7 linked regions of the Homo sapiens genome follow. The protein of the gene in region 4 interacts with the protein of the main gene of each other region in a pairwise test. Each region holds a gene or a part of one and is shown on either strand. Other genes may lie near its edges. The genes, in order: CEP83, PLEKHA7, PRPF18, LZTS1, TSGA10IP, DDX6 and ZMYND19.

Region 1 (4,288 bases), on a different chromosome or scaffold from region 4:
GGGAATAAGATCAGGTCACGGGGGATAGAAAGATATGCAGACTAATATGGAAAGGATAAAGTACAGAGCAGGTTTAGGGGATAGTGAAGAAACCAATCTGGGCAGAGACACCTTTTCCATAAAGAACATACACTTGAAAAGGCAAGGTGAGAGGATTTCAAATAATTCACCTTAAGTCAAGAAACATGAACTTGGGTTAAAAGGAAGTTTTTTACACAGATTTACACACATTCCCTAAAAGCACATAGGTTAAACAATGTGGGCAATTTACTTATGGAACCTAATATGTATGACAAAATTAAAAGCAAGCTCATCTACTTTTAGGCAAAGAGACAGTACCTGGGGGTGGGGAAATTCTGACAATTCACTAAAATTCACTAATCTTTCTGTTAAGATTTCACTCTAAGCTTCTTGAATTAGAACATCCCATGACATAATGCTGATTTCTGATTACTAAGGATTATACGAGTCATTCTTGATTTGTCTCCTCCATCTTGCCCAACTTTTGAATATTTCATTACTTCAACATCAGCATATAGAAAAAAGGAGGAGAGAACTAAAATTAAGTCCATGGATTTTAGCAATACATAAGGGTATCTGACATAAAGAACATTAAACTTCAAGTTCCAATTCCCATTATTAATAGATTTCAAAGAAGTCATTTAGTCTCATCATGTCTCAAATTTTCTCACATACTTGCTTACTTGAAAGGTTATTGATTGAAAAGATCATTCAAAAAGTGCTCTAAAAACTAACAACTTGCCATAAAAATTTTATCATTAAGGGTTCAATAAGAGGAGACAGTGAGGTGACTGGTAAACCAAGGATTAAAAACTACCTGTGAATAGGCCAGGCACGCTGGCTCACACCTGTAATCCCAGCACTTTGGGAGGTCAAGGTGGGCAGATCGCCTGAAGTCAGGAGTTCGTGACCAGCCTGGGCAATATGGTGAAACCCCATCTCTACTAAAAATACAAAAATTAGCAGGGCATGGTGGCATGCACCTGTAACCCCAGCTACTCGGGAGGCTGAGAGGAGAGAATCACTTGAAACTGGGAGGCGGAAGTTGCAGTGAGCTGAGATCCCACCACTGCACTCCAGCCTGAGCGACAAGAATGAAACTCTGTCTCAAAAAAAGAAAAAAAAAAAAACTACCTGTGAATAATCAGTGTTTCATTCTCCCAGTGCTGCATGGAATTCTAAATTGTATTTCACTATTATTTGAGAATGTTCTAAATACAGTCCGCGCACTTCATCTGATCTGGAAAGAAAACACTCAAAGTAAGGGGAATACCCAGCATACTCTGTCCTAAATAACCAAAGGACAACTCAAAACCATTTGCAACTCTCAGGAGAGTCCTGTGTGACACTTATAATTTAAAGCATTCTGGCCTGGTGCGGTGGCTCACACCTGTAATCCCAGCACTTTGGGAGGCCGAGGTGGGCGGATCACCTGAGGTCGGGAGTTTGAGACCAGCCTGGCCAACATGGTGAAACCCCATCTCTACTAAAATAAAAAAATTAGCCGGGCATGGTGGCACGCACCTGTAATCCCAGCTACTCGGGAGGCTGAGGCAGGAGAATCGCTTGAACCCAGGAGGCGGAGGTTGCAGTGAGCCGAGATCGCGCTACTGCACTCCAGCCTGGGCGACAGAGTGAGACTCAGTCATAAATAAATAAATAAAGCATTCTAACAATTCTGAACAAACTGAGTTTGAAATCAAACCTCAATACAAAAGGTGAGTATTAATTCTAACCACTTACAGGCTAAATTCATAAATATGGAAAATTCTAAATCCAGGTAACTGTAGGATAGATACCTTTAATTGTGTTTTAGTTAAATGTCAGACTTGTTTACAGACATGTTGCTTGGTAACAGAAGCACTGCTTTAACAACCCACTCTGTTTTAGAGCTGCTTAAAGTCTGAACAGATTATGAAGTATATATCATATACACGAAATTCAGACAAGTCTTTCCTTATCCTAGAGATCTGTAAGATTTGAAAGAGCTTCCTCATTTCAGCTAACTAAAGGCTTTACAAATACTTAGCAGTGGATATTCTTAAGAGCAAAATGCCCATTGATTATGGTCAAAAGTTGGACACTGAGGATTAACCAAAGTATTTAAACCCAGCATATGCTAACATATTTTAGGTGTTTATCTCAGTAATGACAGTCGACATCACTGTTCATTCAAATTGTCTTCAAAGCCAAGGAAAATGGTAGCATAGCTTTTTCATCGTAAATTAAGCTGGAGGTACTTAAACGTCTGGCCAATTACCAAACTGGCTACACAACCACCAAGCCAGAGTGCATCCAAAAGCTCCATGAAGAGTTTCACGTGCGTCTCTCTGCCTACTTTTCTAGCACGAGCTTCCACTACTTTAACAGGAAAATAAAAAAAGGATTCAAGGGCAGTTTGTGGAGGGACAAAATGAGTATTCCAAAATACAAACAAGACACCGTCCCCAGAAAGAGAGGTTACATACCAGACGCACGCACGCTCCTTGCAACCCGCACACGGAAAACTTAAGTGACCGCAGTTCTGGCCGCGCTCGCCACCGGGGACACCTCCACAGCTCCAACCACAGGCACCCACTCAACTCCGCTTACGGAGGCATTGGGACTAAGGGTTACGGTCCTACAGCGGGGTGTCGGCCCAGCGAGAGGAAGAGGGCCGAACGGACCCCTCGGGCTCCCGTCCCTAGGGAAATGTGAAGTATCCCGGGAGAGGTCCGAGGGCGGCGGCGGCGGCGGTGAAAAGCCCCACTCCTCCGCGTGGACCGGGATCCTCAGGGGTGCGGCGCCACCCCACGTGCTGACGTATGGCCCAGAAGCCGCCTCATCGCACCGCCCCACCAGCCTGGAGGAGCGGGCTCTGTCCCTTGGCCCAGCGGCACGCGAAGCAGGAAGTCCCACCCCCCACGCCGACGTCACCCACGCCACCGACGCCGGTTGCTGCCGGAGCCGTTAGAGGGAGGAGACAAACGAACCGAGGCGGGAGCGGCCACGGGTGACAGCGGCAGCGGCGGGGCCGGGCTGCGCTCCCGAAGGCGTTCCTGGAGGGCCCTGGGATGGACTCAGAGATCCCCAGAGCCCCAGGGGACGGAAAATCTAGCCCCGGGCACTTGCCTTGGAGTCTGAGTGATGCGCGTCGTTGGAGCGCGAAGCCGGTCTCCCTAGCCTCCGCCCGACACAGCGTCTCCAGGGGTTTTCCTCCTTTTCGCGCCTCTCCTTCCCTCTTCCCCACACCATTTGAGAGCCTCAAATGGTAGTCCTGCCGCCACCTCTCTCCCTTCGCCAGCCTGCCATCGTCCCCATGGGTGCAGATATGCGCTCCCGAAGCCGCCTGCCTGCCGCGTCTGCCTCGGGCATCAGCCCACGAGTGGGGAGTCGGCTCAGCTTGCCACGAGGGAACCTCGGGTTAGGACCAATCGCCCGGGAGAGAGCCCTCCTCGCCCCCGCACCTCCTGCTCCAAGTCTCCTGTCCTGGTTATCCCAAGTTCAGGGCCCACCTGGGGTCACATGGGGAACTACTTGTCTTAAGGCTGTAAACAATAGTTGGAAGAGGAGTTGCTAGCTTTTGAGAACTTCCATGATCATCCAAAGTCTGAAACAAAGTAGGCGGTCAGCCTTTCAAAATACGTGTTGGAAGAAACAGACACCTTCCCATCCCCAGCGTTTGTTCAGTGCCTTGGTTGGGCTTTGATTCTCACTGCTTTGTGAAGTACAGCTTATTTTTACCCCCAAGATTATGATTTTCAGGCTGTAGTTATTATTGGACAACTGAGAGGTGATTTTGTTGTTGTTGAAATGAGGGAAAACGGGCCATTAGAAAGGACCGTGTCTCTTAAGAGGAGGGAAAAAAAGGACAGCGAGTTGGTAATGGAATGTTGCTGGATGGATTACATAGATGAGACATGGGAGATAGAATAGAGAATCCAGAAATTCTCATGTATGTGTGCGTGTTTAGTATAATAACAGTAGCTCACATTTGCTGAGCATTTGTGTGGCAAGTACTGGAGTACTTTTTCAGGTTATCTTATTTAACTCTAACATTTCTGTAAGGTAGGTGCAATTGTTATCTCCATTTCACAGAGTTGCCCAAAACCATTACTTTTAAACGCTGGAGCCAGACAACTCCAGAAATCTCTGTGGTAGCCAGTAAACTATACATGACAAATTATTGGTCAGTAGGAAAAAGATCATTCGGGAAATGGCGGTGGCTCACGCCTGTAATCCCAGCACGCTGGGAGGCCAAGGCAGGTGGATCACCTGAGGTCAGGAG
Region 2 (3,618 bases), on a different chromosome or scaffold from region 4:
CAGCTCAGAAATATACACACCCCTCAATGGAACTGGCTTCTTGCCTTCTGTTGTGAGCATACATCACAAGTCAAAATGAATTAAATACAAATCCAGTTTGCAATGGTCCGTCACTAAGCTGCCTCCCAGGAGCGAGCCGGCAGCATGTGGGTTGGAAGGGGGCCCACAGCGTTCCCTGCGCTGTCTTGAATTGGACTGCAGTCTGTCTGACAAACCAGCCCCACAAGGGAGTCCACAGCCTGGTGGCTCTTTGACTGGGATGGGGTAGGGGGTTGCCTTGAGCAACTGTGGAAGCCTAGCCAGGGGCCCAGAAGCACAGGCCTCCTCAATCCAGGCCTCTACAGTCAATCAAATGTCAAGGAATCGTCACCAGAAGAAACTTTTCATAGGTAAATAGAAGCAGGGCCGAGAGCTGACAGTGGGGATTTTCCAAAGAAATGGAAACAAACGTACACAGGCCACTCACCAGAGACTATAGCCAGCAAGAAACAGGAAACGTATCAGGTTAATATTTTAATCTGTACATCACATTTTTTTTGCAAACCATTACATTTTTAAATTAACTTTTTCTTGCAAAATATTCATTTCATTTTTTCCAAGAAAATCTTATAAAGGCAAAAATAAAATTTTATTTTGGCAAATGTCATGAAGTCGATACTGGCAGCATATGGAGTTAGTTAAAAATAGACAACAACTGCTAGATATATTCAAAATTCTATTTTTTTTTCTGAGCATAGTCAAAGAGAAATTTTCATTTAAAGTGTGGCTCCACCCAATGGAGGTTTTCGTTGTTGTTGTTTTTTCCATTTAAACGTCATTGTTTATATGCAGAATAATATAAGAAAACAACTTAAATAAAGGGCCACAAACACTGCACCTGGCTTGGTAGCCCCCCTCCTCATGTGGGGCTGGAAGTCAAATCAAAGTCCTGCCATTATGGCCCTGCTGGCGGCAGGCCATGAGGGATGGTGGGGGCACACTGCTGCCCTCCTGCCACCAGACCTGAGTCCCAGGGAAGCCAATCCGGGGTTCTCCAAGGGCAGGCAGCAAAGGTTCCCATCATGGCCTGGTTAGAGGGAAGGGATTTCTAGGTAGATGTCACCCAGTGTGGAGTTTATTGCTACGATACAATGAAAGTTGCTTCCTCTCACCTTTTCTGTATTTCAATGTGTACTGTTAAAAATGAAAGCAGGCTGGGCGTGGTGGCTCACGGCTGTAATCCCAACACTTTGGGATGCTGAAGCGGATGAATCACCTGAGGTCAGGAGTTCGAGACCAACCTCACCAACATGAAGAAACCCCCGTCTCTACTAAAAATACAAAATTAGCCGGGCGTGGTGGCACATGCCTGTAATCCTAGCTACTTGGGAGGCTGAGGCAGGAGAATCACTTGAACCCAGGAGGCAGAGGTTGCAGTGAACCGAGATCGTGCCATTGCACTCCAGCCTGGGCAACAAGAGTGAAACTCCATCTCAAAAAAAAAAAAAGATAGCAAACTGCTTTTTTCTTTCTGACAAGAGCCTTTTGCTGGAGGAAGCCTGGGGGCAGGTTGTGGGCCCCAGTCCTCTTGAACACACTGTTGCCCCTAAGCCAAACCCAAGGGGCAAGGCACAGACTTGGGCTCCACGTGTGATCCTCGTGGAGTTTCACACAGAGCTGGTCATCAGGTCAGGGACAGCTGATCTCTGCAGCCAAGGGCCCCTCTTCTCCCAGACAGCACGCCAACCAGCCTCTTGCTGGAGTCTACTGGGAACACCTCTTTAAATCTCACTTTCTCCTGAGGTCATTGGAAGTTGGACTAGCCTCGGCTTGCCCCGCCCTTCCTGCCCCCACAACACCTGTCACCCAGAAGTACCTGAATCTGTACGTGCAGCTGCAAAGTCCTGCATCCTCAACCTTCCTGCCACTCAGCCCTTGAGGGGAACATTAGAAAATAGATTCCGATTCTAAAATACAGTGTATTTTACAGTGTATATCAAAAGTGCCTTTGCCATTCATATGTAGAGAGGAGTCTGAGCTAAACTAGTGGGTGCATATTAGGGCCTGGCCTGTGGTGAACACCCGCAGTCGGTAAGCTGCTCCTTCCTCCGGCCGGATTCCCTGCTCAGCTGGAAGGGGTTTCCTTGGGGGCAGAAAGGTCATCTCCTTGGAGGAAGCTGGTTCCACTGGGCCCCTGGCTCCAGGCTTCTTTGCATGCTGGGTCACGGGTCAGTCACTGCCTGGGCTGGCAAAAAGCACAGGAGACAGTGAGAGGCTGGCATCCAGGGAGCAGGCACGTCTGCACACACATGATGGAATGGCAGATAGGCGGACAGGCAGAGCAGCAGAGCAGGGGGCTCTGGCAATGCGGCCGCTGCTGGGGGACCCTCAGCTTCCAGGACACATGGGGCTCTTGCCCCACCCTCCCTGCACCCCTATTCCACTGCTAGACACATGCTGGCCCCTAAATTGGGTCCCCATCCCGACAGGGCAAAGACTCTAATAAAGGTGCAGTCTGGCCCTGCCCTTCATTCTTTCAATGTGGGTAGCGCTCTTGGCCTCTGTGGGCCTTGTTTTTCTAACCTAAAAAACATGGTGGTCATACCCACTTCTTAACAAGGATGCTTTGAGAGTAAGAAGAAATGCAGTACTCCAAAGAGTATAATAGGCCAATCTTACAGCCATGGGGGCACCAAAACCCAGGAGGAACAGAACCTCTCTCCTGCCTCTCTGTGACTGAGCGCTGTTACTGTGCTCAGATCTCTAGGAGAAAGCCACACCCTCAAATGTGGCCTTCACAATGGGCGTGGCTAGAGCACTTCCCTATGGCTCCTCAACCACGGGGCCTCTACTCCACACCTCCTCAGAGCCTGGCCCAAGGAGGCTGACCTCTTCCTCTCATGCTCAGGCTGGCGGGGACCTGCTGACTCTGCTGTGAGGCACGGGGAGCACCCAGGATAGACACCTGCCAAAAAATCATGCTTCGCTCCCTGCAGCACAAATACTCTCTCCCTCCTTTCACTTCTTTCTCCAAACACCTAGAGCTGCTCGGGGCGGCCCAGATGAACCCATGAGTGGTGATGGGGAACAAAGGCTCTGAACTCACATCAAAGGGGTTCAAACCCCAGCACTTAACAAGCTGCGATTCCTTGCGCATATCCCTCAAGGCCTCTGAGCTTTTGTTTTTTCATCTCTAAAACGGGGAGGGGGGGGGGAATATCTTCATAGGGTTGTTGTGTGGATCGAAAGAGATACTTAGCACAATGCCTGGCACACAGCAGGCACTCAACAATGTTAACCACAAGTATACGTAAAGGAAGGAGAGGGGAAAGCCCTGCAAAATGATAGTGGGATGGGATGTCAGGGTAAGGACTGCCCAGACTGGTAGTCTGACCTTCCCCTGTCCAGGTGAACCGCTGGGCTCAAAAGCAACAGGCCCAGGCCAAGAACTCACTTGAGACTGGACCAGATGCCAGCCTCCTGTTTCAGGGCTCCCTCCTCATCCCACACTGCCTCTCATCACTAGATGCCCACATGGGGAGAACTTGGTAGGGTTGGTGCCAGAGCTTTCTGCCTGGCTGAGGGCCAATTTCACATTGCCCTGGGCTTCCCTTTCTCTCCCTCTTAAAGTGCCCAGTG
Region 3 (3,500 bases), on a different chromosome or scaffold from region 4:
GTGGATGTTAGGAAGGGCCAGGGTGTTGAAATCTAAGTGCTTTAAAGGGAAAAGTGAATCACAAAATATTCAGCCCACCCTCAAGGTTCACAACATGAATATTTGCATAATCATGTTCTTCGTCATTGAAATGCACCAATCTACAAAAATGATCATTAAAAAAAAAACTTTAGATTCTTCAGGGTCATTTATAATTTATAATATATAAACTTTTCCTGGGTGTCTTTCATTTTTTAATTTGGTAGTTGATTGAATTATCACATAATTCCAGCCAGAAGATAAGATTGATTTTTTCAATCACAGAGCAGTTCAGACCAACAAAGGGCGTACATGAAATGGGAATTAAAATACTGACATTCGGCCGGGCGCGGTGGCTCACGCCTGTAATCCCAGCACTTTGGGAGCCTGGGGTGGGCAGATCACGAGATTGAGACCATCCTGGCTAACACGGTGAAACCCCATCTCTACTGAAAATACAAAAAAAAAAAATATATATATATATATATATTAGCTGGGCATGGTGGCAGGTGCCTGTAGTCCCAGCTACTCAGGAGGCTGAGGCAGGAGAATGGCGTGAACCCGGGAGGCGGGGCTTGCAGTGAGCTGATATTGTGCCACTGCACTGCAGCCTGGGCGACAGAGCGAGACTCCATCTCAAAAAAAAAAAAAAAAAATACTGACATTCATAGTTTATATTAGCAGTAATGTTAGGCATCATGCAATATGTGTTTTCTAACTTGTACAACAAGTTGCCATTGTTCCCATTTACAGATGAGGAAACTGGAAGCTAAGAGAAGTTACATGACTATAGGATTATGCAGCTAGCAAGAGATAGAGCCTGGATTTGAACCCTGGTCTGTTCCTACTTCAGAGCCTGATCTGTTAACCTGTACAGATAGAATGGATATTTATTCACCTTACAAACATAGAACTAGTTTTGATAGGGCTAATGTAACAAAGCACTGGAAAATTATTAGACTAACATGATTTATATTTTTCAAAGTGCTATATGCTATCTGATTTGAGCTTTACAACGGTTAATTAGTGCACAAGGCAATGCTGTTTTCATGGATGATGAAATTGAGGCTTAGAGGGTTACACGATGTTCTCATATTCCTGTGGCCAGCCGGGATAGATCTCAAGTCTTAGACCAACTTGAGGGTGAGTGCTCTTGCATGATGTAAGGGAACATACACAACTAGGCGTCTTTTCTGTTGTATCCATGGGAAGACAGTCTTTAGATCTGCAGCTCTATCATTTCATGCAGAATAGTTGCTTTATATTTTTCATCTTTCTGCATCACAGTGTCTGTCAGTAACTTACAGACTTTTTCACTGCCCCGTTCATAGCAATACATTTTTATATATTGATCTGATATGTATGTGAAAAAAGTTTTATGAAATAATTCTTACAACCACAAATGATTTTATCATGTTTTATTCAGTCCTCCTTTTTTGTTATCAGTTATTTAATTAGGTTCTTCTTAAGAAATGTAGAACACCAATTTGTGAGGATAAATTCCATGAGTCGGGGCAAACACAGATCGCAGGTAGTCCTGGAGCTTAGGAATAGCTTTGATTTTTGGTAAAATTTGTGACTCCACAGCTTTCTGATCAATCTTGTGCTGCTCTGTAATCTTGTATTTATCTTTTTCTGTGCTGAAGATCTCAGCTTCCTGGTGTCTGGGCTTCTGCAGCTGCTGCTGCTTGAATAAGCATCAGTGGGATGTTTTGGGATTTTTACATCGCTGATAACAATTTTGGTTGAGGTGGCAATGACAGATTTCTGGTGTTTTCTTCATAGAGGAACTCGATTGAGGACCAGAGGTCCAGTCACAAGTAACAAGCCACTAGCCAGGTGCTTCAGGAAGACCGCCCTCTTGCCTCTGTGGAATCCAGTGAGGATGATCAGAACGTTCCCCGGGGTAATGCTGGTTCGCAGTTTTCTCACGTGTCAACTGAGGGTTTTTTTTTTTTTTTGCCATGGCTCAACAGCTTTTGAGGCACATCTTCAGTAGGAAAATATCTAGGCATTTTATGAAGTTTAACCACCTGGGTACTACCATTCTTGTCACCACCAACTGGTTTTGTAACAGTTGCAAGAACCTTCTTTTTCTTTTCAACCTCGTACTTAGCGGCTGAGTACTTCCTCTTATACACAGCTTTTCTGGAATACATAGCACATCGGGAATACCTGCCAATTCCTCTGACAAGGACAGGGTTGTGCTGCAATGGGGCTTCCCCTTCTTGGGCTTCTTAGCCTTGAGGTGACCCTTTTTCACCTTGTCACCAGCCTCAGCCTTCTTGGCTTTGGGTTTCTTCTCTTTAGTATCCGGCTTCTCAACTTTTTCACCCACCATCTTACAAGATGGGGAAGAGCAAGTCCCTTTGTTTTAATTTTTTAGAAAACACGGGTCAGGGATCAGTAGATTGTTGTCATTACCGCATCTGTAGCTGGAAAACAGTTGTCTGTGTGGTGTTGCTCTTGCAGAAAGAAGAGCCACCTCATCTTTGGTCATTTCAAGTGGTGTCCCAGCTTTTTGTGGTTAATCTGTGATAGTTGAAATAATCAGTACTTAGCTTGTGAGTGCCTCTTTCTCAAATTGCAGAGAAGTGACTAAGATATCCTCTTACCACCTGTCCTAAAGTGCCCTGCCTGGTGTAACCACCCTGAGGTAAATGTGTCTGCATTGCTAGAACACCAGTGTTTTGGAGCCTAGAATTGGTGAGTTTTCATTTAATGCAAAACCTCGTGTGGAAAACCAGGCTGCTCTAGAAACTCAATGGGGAGTAATTAGTAGTTTTACTAGTTGTAGTTATGAGGATGAGCTATGTGCAGAATTTTAGCTTTTTTTCCTTCCAGTATTTACTGCATCTTTCCTATATGCAAGATACTATGCTGTGCTGCAGTAACAATGCTACAATAATCAAAACAGCATAGCGCTGGCATAAAGAGCAACAGCTAACACCACTAGAGTATAACAGAGCACCCAGAACGGAGCCACCCTTACACAATTATTGATTTTTGACAAATACACTAAAACCAAATGGAAGGAAAGATATTTTCAGTAAATGATGCTGAACAACTGGATATCCATACGGAAATAATAAGCAACAACCCCTACCCCACATTATACAAAACATTCTGAAATGAAGGACCAATGGAAGGAATGGCAGGAACCAACATGGGAGACATTGGAAAATAAAATTAGTAAGGAAAACTGTATACTAGTTCTAATACATTGGAAAATCTAAGTGAAGTAAATGGCTAAAAAGTACAAAAAAATACAAGAAATAGAAAATCTAAGCAAACCAGTAAGTGAGGAAGACATAAGAAGAATCTGTCAGCTAAGAGGAGAAAGTTACTGAAGGAAGGAAGGAATGAGCAGTTAAATCGAAGACTGGATGAGATCAGTCAGAGAAGTCTCTTTGGATTTGTATCTTAGACATTATTTATGACCCCAAGGAGGTTTTTTCAGTGAAACAGAATGGATGTCCACA
Region 4 (3,500 bases):
GGATGAAAACACATTTTGTCAGTGTCAAGTTTATATCAGCAGAGCCACCCTGTGCTCCTAAGTCACACCTCGCAGGAATGGGAGGCAGAAAGGTTGCATTTAGAAGGAAAGGATTAGCTCTGGAAAGTGAGTTTGGACATTGAGGCTCCCCAGATCCATAGGGATGATGGATGTTGGCAAGGACAATGGTCACAATATAAGTAACAGATACCGATAACACTGCCTAGCATTTATTGAGTGCCCACTATGTACTAAGTATTGAGTAAATGTTCCAGAGCTGTTATCTTATGGTGGTATTTCTTAAATTTCTCATAACGATCCTATGAGGTAGGCTGCTTCACTGTATTTCCTCGAGTATACAAAGCCATCAATTCAATAAAAGCTTTTCACATCAAAACATATTAAACTTACACAACGAAGTTTTGTTGTGTCATGCTTTTCCTAACAAAATATAGAACATATTCATAACATAACCTCTTTATTCTTCAGGATGATAACGCAAGTTTGAATCGAAGCCTAGATATTCAGAGTCACAGAGTCTCCATGCACAACTGCTAATTGTAAAAAATATATATATAATAAAATTAAAATTAAAAAACAGAGTCAGAAAGTTTCTGGCTCCCTTTCAGCTGTGCCCATGCAGTTCTCCATGTCCCACCTGGGATTTCTTTAGCCCCTTTAGGATGGATGGTATAATTTAGAGCTCAGCGAAGAACAGAGGCTCCTTCCACATCTCCTGTTTTATTAAACTTGTGGCTTTCCCCTTCTTAATTGGATATCTGTCTTTTGACTAAGAAATACTTCACAGTGCATGACAATCACCAACCTTTCCTAGCTTTGAAAATTGTGTGATCTAAACTTAGAGATTTGCCTGAATCTGCACATGTGCTGGCACTGACATCCCAATTTCTCCTGTCTGGTGACTGACAAGGTTGTTATTGTTTAAGCATTGATTATTAGATGCTATCCTATTACTTTAAAAAAAAAATGTGCCCAGTCCGGTGGCTCACGCCTATAATCCCGGCACTTTGGGAGGCCTAGGCAGGTGGATCACCTGAGGTCAGGAGTTCGAGACCAGCCTGGCCAACATGGGAAAACCCCATCTCTACTAAAAATACAAAGATTAGCCAGCCAGTCATGGTGGTGCTCACCTGTAATCCCAGCTATGTGGGAGACTGAGGTGGGAGAATCATTTGAACCCGCGAGGTGGAGGTTGCAGTGAGCCAAGATCATGCCACTGCACTCCAGCCTGGGCAACAGAGTGAGACTCTATCTCAAAAAAAAAAAAAAAAAAAGTTTAAGGGTGTCTTAGAATTAGTTTGTAACACTGAAGGTTAAAGATATTAAACAGTTTACCTTCCATGTCATAGCTGGCAGGTGATGTAACTAGAATGCACACCAAGTCGGCTGGGTACTTCTCAACATTAAGGCTGTAATGACTTTCTCCTTCTTTCTCTCTTGAATCTTCTCAATGAGGCCTTCCTTCCACCATTCCTCCAAAACTGCTCTTGTCAAGGTTACCAAAGATCTCCACATGGCCAAATGCATTGACTAATTCTCAATTGTTATCTTACTTTCAGCAGCACTTGACAACTTTTTTTTTTGAGACAGGAACTCAGTCTGTTGCCCAGGCTGGAGTGCAGTGGCGTGATCTCAGCTCACTGCAACCTCCGCCTCCTGGGTTCAAGCTATTCTCATGCCTCAGCTTCCTCAGTAGCTGGGACTACAGGTGCGTGCCACCATGCCCAATTTGCCTGGCTAATTTTTTATATTTTTAGTAGAGACGGGGTTCCACCATGTTAGCCAGGCTGGTTTCAAACCCTTGACCTCAAGTGATCTGCCCACCTTGGCCTCCCAAAGTGCTGGGATTACAGGCTTGAGCCATTGCGCCTGGCCATTTGACACCATTTTTAGGAAACAATTTCTTGACTTGGCTTTCTTAGGTCTTCTATATCGACATCACCCTGAAAACCTTCTCTGCTGCTCTTTTTCACTTCTCCTAACCTGCCTGACCTCCAGATGCCGAGTGCTCCATGTTAACCATCCTCAGGCCTCTCTTGTCTTTCTGCATCCGCTCTTTGGTGACCCCATCTAGTCTCATAGCCACTTCCACACTCCCAGCTCTGACAAGTGCATCTGCAGCTCCCAGCAGCTGCCCACTCACCCTCCTGCCTACTCTCCATCACTCCCTGGATGCCAAATAGGCTTTGCAAACTGAATGTCTTCAACCAAACTCCTCTCTTTGGCATTGTCCCTGACTCCTCTCTTTCGCTCACTCCCTACATCTGATCCTTTAGCAAGTCCTGTCAGCTCAACCTCAAAATTACATTGAAAACTGTTTTTTAGAGACAGGGTCTCACTGTGTTGCCCAGGCTGGTCTTGAACTCCTGGCCTCAAGTGATCCTCCTGCCTTGGCCTCCCAAAATGCTGGGATTACAGACGTGAGCCACCACCACATCTAAATCCACAACTACCACCCTAGACTATTAGCCTGTAATTGGCCACCACTTCTATCCCCCGTCTCCTCAATAAGCTTCTTCCCCACCCGGAAGCCAGAGTGACCTTCCCCAACCTAAGGCAGATCAAGGTGTCAGCTGCTTAAAGCCATCCAGGGGCTCCTTGTCTCAACCCAAGCAAAGCCAGAGCTCTTTGAGCTGCACAGCCTCCTTGTTCTCTGATGTCTGCTGGCTCCTGGTTTCTGTTTCTCCTTCCCAGCCTTGCTAATTGTTCTCCAGCCAGGCTGCTTCCCATGTGGGTCTCACACAGCCAAGCCCCCTCTGCCTCAGGGACTCAGGCTTTTATACTTGGGGTTTCTTCTGGTACCCCTCTCCCCCTAGATTTTCATATGACTTGCACCTCATTTTCTTTTCTTCTTCTTCTTTTTTTTTTTTTTTTTTTTTTTTGAGTCAGGCCCAGGCTGGAGTGCAGTGGCACAATTGTGGCTCACTGCAGCCTTGATCCCCGGGGCTCAGACGATTCTCCCACCTCACCCTCCCAAGTAGCTGGGATTACAGGTGTGCACCACTACGCCCGGCTAATTTTTGTATTTTTAGTAGAAATGGGGTTTCTCTAAGTTGCACAGGCTGGTCTCGAACTCCTGGACTCAAGCAATCTGCCCACCTCAGCCTCCCAGAGTGCTGGGATTACAGGTGTGAACCATCATGCCTGGCTGCCCCCTCATTTTCTTGAAGCCTTTTAAAATGCTACCCTAACAAAAGAAGACCTTCCTGCATAAAACAGCCACCTCCCAGAATTCTGTTCTGTCCTCTCTGCTCCAGTTTCCCCCGCAGCACTGGTACCCGCAGCACTGGTACCCGCAGCACTGGTACCACTTGCTATAGTATACATTGGTTTGCTTCTGGCCTCTCCACACCACTGTAACCCTAAGTTCCAGGAATGCAGGGACTGTGACTGTTTTAGTCACTTGCTGGGTCCCGAGTGTTTAGAGTAGAGGCTTGCATGAAGTGGGCTCCCAGTGAATGTTTGTTGAATTATCAGAC
Region 5 (3,500 bases), on a different chromosome or scaffold from region 4:
TACTCAGGAGGCTGAGGCAAGAGAATCACTTGAACCTGGGAGGGGGAGGTTGCAGTGAGCCAAGATTATGCCACTGCACTCCATCCTGGGTGACGAAGTGAGGCTCCATCTCAAAAAAAAAAAAAAGGCAAAGAGTCAGGGCATGGTGACTCACACCTGTAATCTCAACACTTTGGGAGGTGGAGGCAGCAGGATCACCTGAAGCCAGGGGTTGAGACCAGCCTGGGCCACATAGCAAGACACCTATCTCTACAAATAAAAAGTTAAAAAATAAATCAGCTGGATGTGGTGGCATGCACCTGTAATCCCAGCTACTCAGGAGGCTGAGGTGAGAGGGTCACTTGTGCCCAGGAATTCAAAGCTGCAGTGAGCTATGATCGTGGCACTGCACTCTAGCCTGGGCGACAGAGCGAGACTCCATCTCAAAATAATAATAATAATAATAATAATAATAATAATAAAATAAGCAAATAACCCAAATAGACATTTCTCAAAAAAAGACATACAAATGTCTTTTTCATCACTAATCACTAATCATCTGGGAAATGCAAAATAAAATGATAATAAGATATCACCTCACGCCTGTTAGAATGACTATTACCAAAATGATGAAAGATAAGGGTTGGTGATGATGTGGAGAAAAGGGAATCTCTGTTTACTGTTGGTGGGAATATAAATTAGTACAGTCATTATAGAAAACAATATCAAGGTTCCCCAAAAAATTACAAGTAGAACTACTATGTGATCCAGCAACCCACTTCTGGGTACATATTCAAAGGAAATGAAATTAGTATGTTGAAGAGGTAGCTGTACTCCTATGTTCATTGCAGGAATATTCACAGTAGCAAAGATATGAGATCAACCTAAGATTCCATCAACAGAAGAATGGATAAAGAAAAGGTGGTATATATACACAATGGCATTCTTCAGCCTTAAAAAGAAGAAAATCCCATCATTTGCAACAACATGCATAAACCTGGAGGACACTATGTTAAGTGAAATAAGCCAGGCACAGGAAAACAAATACCATATAATCTCCCTTATGTGCCAAATCTTAAAAAAGTCAAACTCAGCATAATGGGACCCCATCTCTACCAAAATTTTAAAAATTAGCCAGCAGCCAGGTGTGGTGGCTCACGCCTGTAATCCCAGCACCTTGGGAGGCTGAGGCGGGTGGATCACGAGGTCAGGATAGCGAGACCATCCTGGCTAACACAGTGAAACCCCATCTCTACTAAAAATACAAAAACTTAGCTGGGTGTGGTGGCGGGTGCCTGTAGTCCCAGCTACTCAGGAGGCTGAGGCAGGAGAATGGCGTGAACCCGGGAGGCGGAGCTTGCAGTGAGCTGAGATCGCGCCACTGCACTCCAGCCTGGGCAACAGTGAGACAAGACTCCATCTCAGAAAAAAAAAAAAAAATTAGCCAGGCATGGTGGCTCATGACTGCAGTCCTAGAGCTCAGGAGGCTGAAGTGGGAGGATCACTTGAGCCCTGGAAGTCAAGGATGCAGTGAGCCATGATTGTGCCACTGCACTGCAGCCTGGGCAACACAGCAAGACCCTGTCTCTAAATAAATAAATAAATAAATAAAGTCAAACTCATAGAAGCAGAGAGTAGAATGGTGGTTACCAAGTCCTCACTGGGTTTGTGGGGAGAAGAAGGGAGATGTTGGTCAAAGGATAAGAAATTTCAGTTAGAGAGGAGAAATAAGTTCAAGAGATCTATTGTATGATCTGGTGTCTGTAGTTAAAAGCAATGTATTGTATACTTAAAAATCAATAAAAGAGTAGATTTTAAGTGTTCTCACTACAAAAAAAAAAATCAAGTAAGACCGGGAGTGGTGGCTCACGCCTGTGATCCCCGCACTTTGGGAGGCTGAGGCGGGCAGATCATGAGGTCTGGAGTTCGAAACCAGCCTGGCCAATATGGTGAAACCCCATCTCTATTAAAAATACAAAAATTAGCCAGGTGTGGTGGCAGGCACCGGTAATCCCAGCCATTTGGGATGCTGAGGCATGAGAATTGCTTGAACCCTGGAGACGGAGGTTGCAGTGAACTGAGATCACACCACAGCACTCCAGCCTGGGAACAGAGCAAGACTCTGTCTCAAAAAAAAAAAAAAAAAAAAACCGAGGTAATGCATATGTTAATTAGTTTGATTTAGACCTTCAACAATATAAACATATTTCAAAACCTCATGTTGTACACCATAAATACAATTTTTATTTATCAATTACATAAAATAAATTTTAAAAAAAGAATTGTGGCTGGGCGCAGTGGCTCATGCCTATAATCCCAGCACTTTGGGAGGCCGAGGCGGGCAGATCACGAGGTCAGGAGTTCAAGACCAGCCTGGCCAACATAGTAAAACCCCGTCTGTACTAAAAATACAAAAATTAGCCAGGCGTGGTGGTGGGCTCCTGTAGTCCCAGCTACTTGGGAGGCTGAGGCAGGAGAATCACTTGAACCTGGGAGTCGGAGGTTGCAGTGAGCCAAGACTGTGCCACTGCACTCCAGCCTGGGCAACAGAGTGAGACTCCATCTCAAAAAAAAAAAAAATTGTGGGGTGCTATAAGAATGCTGAATGAACTCTCCCCTGCCCTCACATGCCTCCTGTCACCAGTCACCATGGCCTATTGAACCAGCCTCTAAGTGTCTCTTAAATGGATCCCCTCCCTCCATCCACAGGGCCTCTTGGTTCCTCACCTCAGTGTTGCCAACAGTCTCCTCACAGCCTCCAGTCTCCCCTTCAGCTCCCACTGTCTCCTTTGCTTTAGAAACAGAGGCTCGCTCTGTTGTCCAGACTAAAATTCAGTGATGTCATCATGGCTCACTGCAGCCTTGATCTCCTGGGCTCAAGAGATCCTCCTGACTCAGCCTCTGGAGTAGCTGGGGCTACAGACACTTTCCACCAAGCCAGGCTAATCTTTTTTTTTTCCTTTGTAGAGACAGGGGTCTAGCTATGTTGACCAGGCTGGGTTTTTTGTTCGTTTGTTTGTTCGTTTGAGACAGAGTCTCACTCTGTCACCCAGGCTGGAGTGCAGTGCTGCAATCTCAGCTCACTGCAACCTCCGCCTCCCAGGTTCAAGTGATTCTCATGTCTCAGCCTCCTGAGTAGCTGGGACTCCAGGCACACACCACCATACTTGGATAATTTTTTATATTTTCAGTAGAGACAGGGTTTCGCCATGTTGCCCAGGCTGGTCTCGAACTCTTGAGCTCAGACAATCCACACGCCTTGGCCTCCCAAAGTGCTAGGATTATAGGCGTGAGCCACCACGCCCGGCCCCTTAACTTCTTTTTTAGAGACAGTGTCTCACTCTGTTGCCCATGCTGAATGCAATGGTGGGATCATAGCTCACTGCAGTCTTGATCTCCTGAACTCAAGAGATCCTCCTACCTCAGCCTCCTGAGTAGCTGGGACTACAAGCACGTGTCACCATGCCCAGCTAATTCCAAGTCTTTTAATAGTTATATCCTAAGGGCCCATGAGTAGATAA
Region 6 (3,500 bases), on a different chromosome or scaffold from region 4:
GTCAGGCTGGCCTCAAACTTTTGACCTCGTGATCTACCTGCCTCAGCCTCCCAAAGTGCTGGGATTAAAGGCGTGAGCTACCGCACCTGGCCTTTTTTTTTTTTGAGATGGAGTTTCGCTCTTGTTGCCCAAGCTGGAGTGCAATGGTGCAATCTCGGCTCACTGCAACTCCGCCTCCCGGGTTTAAGTGATTCTCCTGCCTCAGCCTCCCAAGTAGCATTATGGGCATGTGCCACCACGCCCAGCTAATTTTGTACTTTTAGTAGAGACGGGGTTTATTTTTAGTAGAGACAAGGTTTCTCCATGTTTGTCAGGCTGGTCTCGAACTCCCGACCTCAGGTGATCCGCCCACCTTGGCCTCCCAATGTGCTTGGACTACAGGCGTGTGCCACTGCACCCGGACCTATATGGCAAGTTCTTAACAAAAGCCAAACATCAACTGGAGTCAAGAATCTTAAATGTTAATTTCCTATAACTGAATCTTTAAAGTGATGGTTACCATTCAAATATTGTAATTTAAACTATGCACTTAAAAGTAACAAATAGCCTACATACTTTCAGCTTTAAAAGAAAAAATATCCTCTAGTAAGAGGAGGCTCTTCAATTTTAAGGTTAACAAAAGGTTTCTGAGACTGTTCAGAACTGTGTTCTGTGAGTTCAAAATTCTTAGTTCCCTTTTTATATGTAAAAGGAGGAAAAAAATTAAAAATTTTTTTTTTGGGTAGAGACAGAGTCTCATTATGTTGCCTAGGCTGGTCTCAAACTCCTGGACTCAAGTGATCCTCCCACATTGGCCTCCCCAAAGTACAGGGATTACAGGCATGAGTCACCTCAACCAGCCAACTTTTTTTTTTTTTTAAAGTAAAAAAGCTAAGTTCCATAAGCTAAAAAAAGTTACGAGAAAATTTTCTGAGTGAATAATGCTTGGAGTTCAGAAGGCTGGGCAAGTCTTTAAAGACTCTAAAGACTCAGACTGAGTCTTTAAATTTAATACATAAAGTTGGCTTTATCTGCTGTTTAACTAGGGTAAGGTGCAGTCGTAAAAAAACTATACTGACAAAAACGAGATGACTAATAATTTTATTCATTTACAACAAACTAAGCTAATAACTTTTACACTAATTATGAAAGCCAGAAATGTTTCCAAAAACCATTTATACAAAATTTGTGTGTATCATCTGACCTCAGGATGACTACTTGCTGAACAAATTATGGCAGAAATATATTATTCTATTGCAAATACCTACTGGCCATAAAACAAAGTCATCTGTCCTCTATTTGGAATCAAAATGGTTAAATTAAGGCATAAGTATTAATAGTCAACACCAAAGTAACACAAATCTTGGTTCCCCACAAGTGTTTATTAATAATTTACTCTAACACTTACTTAATAGTGGTGGTCATACTCTGTGCTTGCTGCTGAGTGCCATTATTGATTGTGTTGGTGTTTTTCAGCTGGTTCATCTGTTGCTGTGTCTGTGTGCCCCCTCCTCCAGGGCCACCAGTGGGTTTCACAGGGCCTCTCAGCTGACCATTTTGACTGGACAGACCCATTATAACAGGGTTCTCTGTTCTGGCCGTGCTCATGCTGTTTTAATTGCAAAGGTCTTTCAAACTTCAAAACTTTTGAAAGTCAGTAGAGAAACTGTAATAACAGTTTATTAGGCTCTCCAAAATGAAGAGATAAATATAAGTCTTGCTCAATAAATGAGTCCTTTATTGCAATGCAGGCAAGCACCTGTAAGTCTCTGAACGGTAAGCAGCAGTAACTTGCTCTCTTGCACGGAATCAACTTTTTATTTTTAAAAAGCCCTCTAACAAGCTTGAGTTATATCTGAATTCACTCACGTCAATCTGAAACAAACAAACAAAATTAAATTAGCAAACACAACAGAAAAACTTTGTTTCCCTTTTAAAAGAACCCCTTTAAAAGAATTCTCATCTTTTATATTAAAGAATTAATAATACAGCTACACTTAGACCAAATCACGAGCCAAGCTAGGATAGACACAACTTTGAACTATCTCAAAAACACAATGAGGCCAATATCAAACATTTAAAATTGTTAATTCAAAGCAATCCAGAGATTAAGTAGAAAGAGACTAGTAAATTAGCACTACTCGTCAATGATAATCTCTTCTCTTCAGTTTCCTCCCCATGAATTCTCTAAGTCTCTGACATCTCTAAAAGTCAGTGATTCATTATACTTAATTGCATTACAACTCACTGAAGTATCACACAATTTAAACAAGACAATTCATTAATTTTCTTCTACTTGTAATAGCAACCGAGAGTCCTTATAGATTTAAGTGAGCTTTTGACTTGAACTTCACACTTCCAGAAAAAAACACCTTTGTGCCCTTACAAATTTCAACTATTAAACTTTATGGGCTGGGTGCTGGTGGCTCAGGCCTGTAATCGCAGCACTTTGAGAGGCCAATGCGGGCGATCTCTTGAGGTCAGGAGTTAGAGACCAGCCTGGACAACATAGCGAAACCCCATCTCTACTAAAAATACAAAATTTAGGCCGGGTGCAGTGGCTCATGCCTGTAATCCCAGCACTTTAGGAGGCCGAGGAAGGTGGATCATGAGGTCAGGAGTTCAGGATCAGCCTGGCCAAGATGGTGAAACCCTGTCTCTACTAAAAATACAAAAATTAGCCAGGCGTGGTGGCGAGCGCCTGTAATTCCAGCTACTTGGGAGGCTGAGGCAGAGAACTGCTTGAACCCAGGAGGCGGAGGTTGCAGTGAGCCAAGATTGTGCCACTGCACTCCAGCCTCAGCGACAGAGCCAGACTCCGTCTCAAAAACAAAAACAAACAAGAAAAAAAAAACAAAAAACAAAATTTAGCCGGGCATGGTGGTGCACACCTGTAATGGAGTCCCAGCTACTTGGGAGGCTGAAGCACGAGAATCGCTTGAACCTGGCAGACGGAGGCTGCAGTGAGCCAGGTGACAGAGACCTTGTCTCAAAAAACAACAAAAAACTTTAAGAAGAAAAATGTATTTTCTTTTTTCCTTTTTGTCCTTTAAAACAATAAATGAAGCAGTCAAGAGAATAGTGTATTTCTGCCATAATGCATCCAGCAAGTAATGATCCCAAGGACGGATGATATACACAAATTTTGTATAAATGAATTTTTATTTTGAAATTGACAAAACCAAGATGACTCTAATAATTTTATTCATTTATAACAAACTTAGCTAATAACTATTCTAATTTTAAATTTAAAAAAACAGGAAAATTCCTGTTTAAAAAAAAATCCGCGGAAGACTAAACACACTAGTAATTTTAAGAAAACTTTCCAAGAAATCCAGAGTAGTAAAGCTAATTAATAGTTTAAAAAAAAAAAAAAGAACTGGTAGGAGGGGCACGGTAGCTCACGCCTGTAATCCCAACACTTTGGGAGGCCAAGACTGGTGGATCACCTGAGGTCAGGAGTTCAAGACCACCTGACCAACACGGTGAAACTCCGTTCCACTAAAATACAAAAATTAACT
Region 7 (2,966 bases), on a different chromosome or scaffold from region 4:
GAAGGCATTGCCAGGTGGAGTGGTGAGCAGCGGGCGAACTTGCGGAGTTGGGAAGGGCCCATCCCAGCATCAACACTGAGCATGTATCAATGTGGGACAACGCAGGAGGAGATGCTACAGATGCTGCTCTGCCTGCCAAGCACGCCTTCCCCTTCCCCTTCCCTTTTCATGTAGAAAAGTGATTCTAAGCAAGCTAACTACAGTTCATCCCAGGGCTTCCCCAGACACCACTAGAACAGGGTGCCTGCTTCAGTCCGCAAGTGCTAGGTAGTGCCCATGCCGCCTCCCAGAGAGGAGCCGGGAGTGGGGGCGCAGAGCTGGAGGCAGCAGCATCCCTGGCTCTCCACATTTCAGTCAGGATACCAAAATGTACCCTATTTTTGTTTCAGCCAAATTGACCTTTGTTTCTGTTTCTTGCAACCCAAAGTTCCAACTAACATAATCCCCGAAAGAATAAAAACCCCATTCAACAATCGTAAGAGGCCTGGCTTCACTCACAAGCAGTATGAGGAAGGTCAAAACTCTAATATTAGAGCAAGGACCGGGCGTGGTGGTGCACACCCGTAATCCCAGCTACTCAAGAGGCTGAAGCGGGGCCAGGCGTGGTGGCTCACGCCTGTAATCCCAGCACTTTGGGAGGCTGAGGCAGGCGGATCACCTGAGGTCAGGAGTTCAAGACCAGCCTGGCCAACATGGCAAAATCCCACCTCTACTAAAAATACAAAAATTAGCCAGGCGTGGTGGTGGGCACCTGTAACCCCAGCTACTAGGAAGACTGGGGCAGAATTGCTTGAACTGGGCAGGCAGAAGCTACAGCGAGCCAAGGTCGCGCTACTCCAGCCTAGGCAACAGAGCCAGACTCCGTCTCAAAAAAAAAAAAAAAAAAAAATGCTGAGGCAAGAGGATTCCCTGAAGCCAGGAGTTCAAGAACAGCCTGGGCAACATAGTGAGACCCATCCGTAAAATTAATTAATTTAATGAAATAAACAGAGCAGGGAAAAAAAAACACCAGCCCAACAAGAACGAAAGACACTTCAGGCTCTGCCTTCGTCCTGAGAGGCCCAGTGAGGAAGGGATGGGGGGGGATTTGTAGGACTCCCTCCAGGGTGGCAGGAACAGCAGTTTGGGAGTGGCATTTTGGAGGCCTGGGGACTGTCCCCACATCACCAACCAGTGTGTCAGGTGCTCCCACTGTTTCCACCTCGGCTGCCCAGGGCTCTGGCATGACTCTGAGGTGACAACTGCAAAGATTCTACCCACAGCCACCAACCATCACCAAGCCCGAAACACTAAACCTTACCAGCGTTGCTGACAACCATCTGCTAGGGCAGTTCGCACTGCCTGCACCAGGAAAGGCTGCCCAGAGGCTTGAGGACGTGCCCAAAAGCCCCAGGGCGCCAGGGGAACATGTCAGTGAAGCGTGTGTGGCTGGGGACTCCCTGGCTCAACTGGGCTCCCAACCCCTATCCTGCTGGTCCCTTGGCTCTTCCCAAGGGCTCCATGAAGTTCACAGACTGGCTGGTTCTAGGGCCAGCAGGAACCGCCCTCCCAGGTGGGAAGCCCATGCAAAGCACTGCTTTCAGGATCACAGGCAGGTCGGGGGCCGAGGGCTGAGCCCTGAACCATTCTCCGCTTTAAACCTTTGCTTAAGGAAAACTGTTTAGCAAAAGAACACAACAAAAAGACCCATCTGTGTGCACAGAAAAGAATCCTGAGGTGAGGAGAGAAGGAAGGAATCCTGAGGTGAGCAGAGAAGGAAGGAATCCTGAGGTGAGCAGAGAAGGAAGGAATCCTGAGGTGAGCAGAGAAGGAAGGAATCCTGAGGTGAGCAGAGAAGGAAGGAATCCTGAGGTGAGGAGAGAAGGAAGGAATCCTGACGTGAGCAGAGAAGGAAGGAATCCCGAGGTGAGGAGAGAAGGAAGGAATCCCGAGGTGAGAGAAGGAAGGAATCCCGAGGTGAGAGAAGGAAGGAATCCTGAGGTGAGAGAAGGAAGGAATCCTGAGGTGAGAGAAGGAAGGAATCCTGAGGTGAGCAGAGAAGGAAGGAATCCTGAGGTGAGGAGAGAAGGCTGATGCCTCCCAGGGGTGTGGGGCAGAAGCCCTGCTCACACCGAGTCCCGACGCTGGCCCTGCCCTGGAGCAGGCAGCCCTTCTCCCCACTGTCATGCCAGCTAAAGGGAGGTTCCCAGAGCCAATTATAAGAGGAGCAATGCAAAAACACACACCATCAAGATCCTTCCCGCTCCCATGAAGAAAAGGAGGATTCCACGCTTTGGGGAAAAACAATGAAATTCCCAAAATACACAGAAGCATCAGGGCTCAGAGGAGGAACAGGAGACCCTCTTGGAAACAAGAGCTTTGGCGGTGGCCCTCCTCAAAAGGCGCCTCTGCTGGCATCGCCAGGCCCTGAGAAGACCCACCTCTGCTTGCTGGAGGTCTCTTCAGCCTTGGGCCGCCAGCCCCACGGCACCAGTTGCAGGTTGTCCAGGCGATTGTCCACGGTCACAGCGTTGAGGTGCACCACCTGGAAGCCCGGGGCCACGCCCCCCCGGTGCCGCTCCCTAGAAACAGACAGCAAACCCTGCATCTAACCCTGCATCGCTGCCTCCCACCCTCACAGACATTTCTGGTCAGGTACCAAAGTCCTTCCAGGAAGAAATGTCAGCCATGTGATCTGATCGGGCCCCTGGTCCTTTGGATGAGGGTACCTCAGGCGGAAGCTGCTGAGAGAAACCCAAGCACCTGATCTGTGGCCCAAACAGGACAGGGACACAGGGAGGACCCGGCCCCTGGACTTCAGAGCACAGACAGCCAAAGCTGGAACGCAAAACCACCTAAGCAGATGGCCTCGAGACAGCTCCCCATCTGAGTGGTCCCTACCATGCACACCGGGGGGGCTCGGCAAAACCCAGCAAGGGGAGCAACCACCGTCCCTCCAGAGGCTGCCGGTCCTGGGCAAGCTCCCA

The links.
Region 1: the proteins of LZTS1 (region 4) and CEP83 interact in binary tests that used the Homo sapiens proteins (3 or more experiments, as listed by UniProt).
Region 2: the proteins of LZTS1 (region 4) and PLEKHA7 interact in binary tests that used the Homo sapiens proteins (3 or more experiments, as listed by UniProt).
Region 3: the proteins of LZTS1 (region 4) and PRPF18 interact in binary tests that used the Homo sapiens proteins (3 or more experiments, as listed by UniProt).
Region 5: the proteins of LZTS1 (region 4) and TSGA10IP interact in binary tests that used the Homo sapiens proteins (3 or more experiments, as listed by UniProt).
Region 6: the proteins of LZTS1 (region 4) and DDX6 interact in binary tests that used the Homo sapiens proteins (3 or more experiments, as listed by UniProt).
Region 7: the proteins of LZTS1 (region 4) and ZMYND19 interact in binary tests that used the Homo sapiens proteins (3 or more experiments, as listed by UniProt).

Annotation. Positions count from the first base shown.
Region 1 is NC_000012.12:94,457,068-94,461,355, forward strand, and holds the start of CEP83 (centrosomal protein of 83 kDa), read right to left. Parts: upstream 2,801-4,288; 5' UTR 2,490-2,800; intron 1-2,489. UniProt on the Homo sapiens protein: Component of the distal appendage region of the centriole involved in the initiation of primary cilium assembly.
Region 2 is NC_000011.10:16,776,797-16,780,414, forward strand, and holds the end of PLEKHA7 (pleckstrin homology domain-containing family A member 7), read right to left. Parts: intron 2,225-3,618; coding exon 2,202-2,224; 3' UTR 501-2,201; downstream 1-500. UniProt on the Homo sapiens protein: Required for zonula adherens biogenesis and maintenance. Acts via its interaction with CAMSAP3, which anchors microtubules at their minus-ends to zonula adherens, leading to the recruitment of KIFC3 kinesin to the junctional site.
Region 3 is NC_000010.11:13,589,965-13,593,464, forward strand, and holds part of PRPF18 (pre-mRNA-splicing factor 18), read left to right. Parts: intron 1-1,803; exon of another isoform or gene 1,804-1,903; coding exon of another isoform or gene 1,904-1,924; intron 1,925-3,500.
Region 4 is NC_000008.11:20,255,464-20,258,963, reverse strand, and holds part of LZTS1 (leucine zipper putative tumor suppressor 1), read left to right. Parts: intron 1-3,500. UniProt on the Homo sapiens protein: Involved in the regulation of cell growth. May stabilize the active CDC2-cyclin B1 complex and thereby contribute to the regulation of the cell cycle and the prevention of uncontrolled cell proliferation. May act as a tumor suppressor.
Region 5 is NC_000011.10:65,948,480-65,951,979, reverse strand, and holds part of TSGA10IP (testis-specific protein 10-interacting protein), read right to left. Parts: intron 1-3,500.
Region 6 is NC_000011.10:118,784,665-118,788,164, forward strand, and holds part of DDX6 (probable ATP-dependent RNA helicase DDX6), read right to left. Parts: intron 1,855-3,500; 5' UTR 1,588-1,854; coding exon 1,388-1,587; intron 1-1,387.
Region 7 is NC_000009.12:137,584,547-137,587,512, forward strand, and holds part of ZMYND19 (zinc finger MYND domain-containing protein 19), read right to left. Parts: intron 2,562-2,966; coding exon 2,421-2,561; intron 1-2,420. UniProt on the Homo sapiens protein: May be involved as a regulatory molecule in GPR24/MCH-R1 signaling.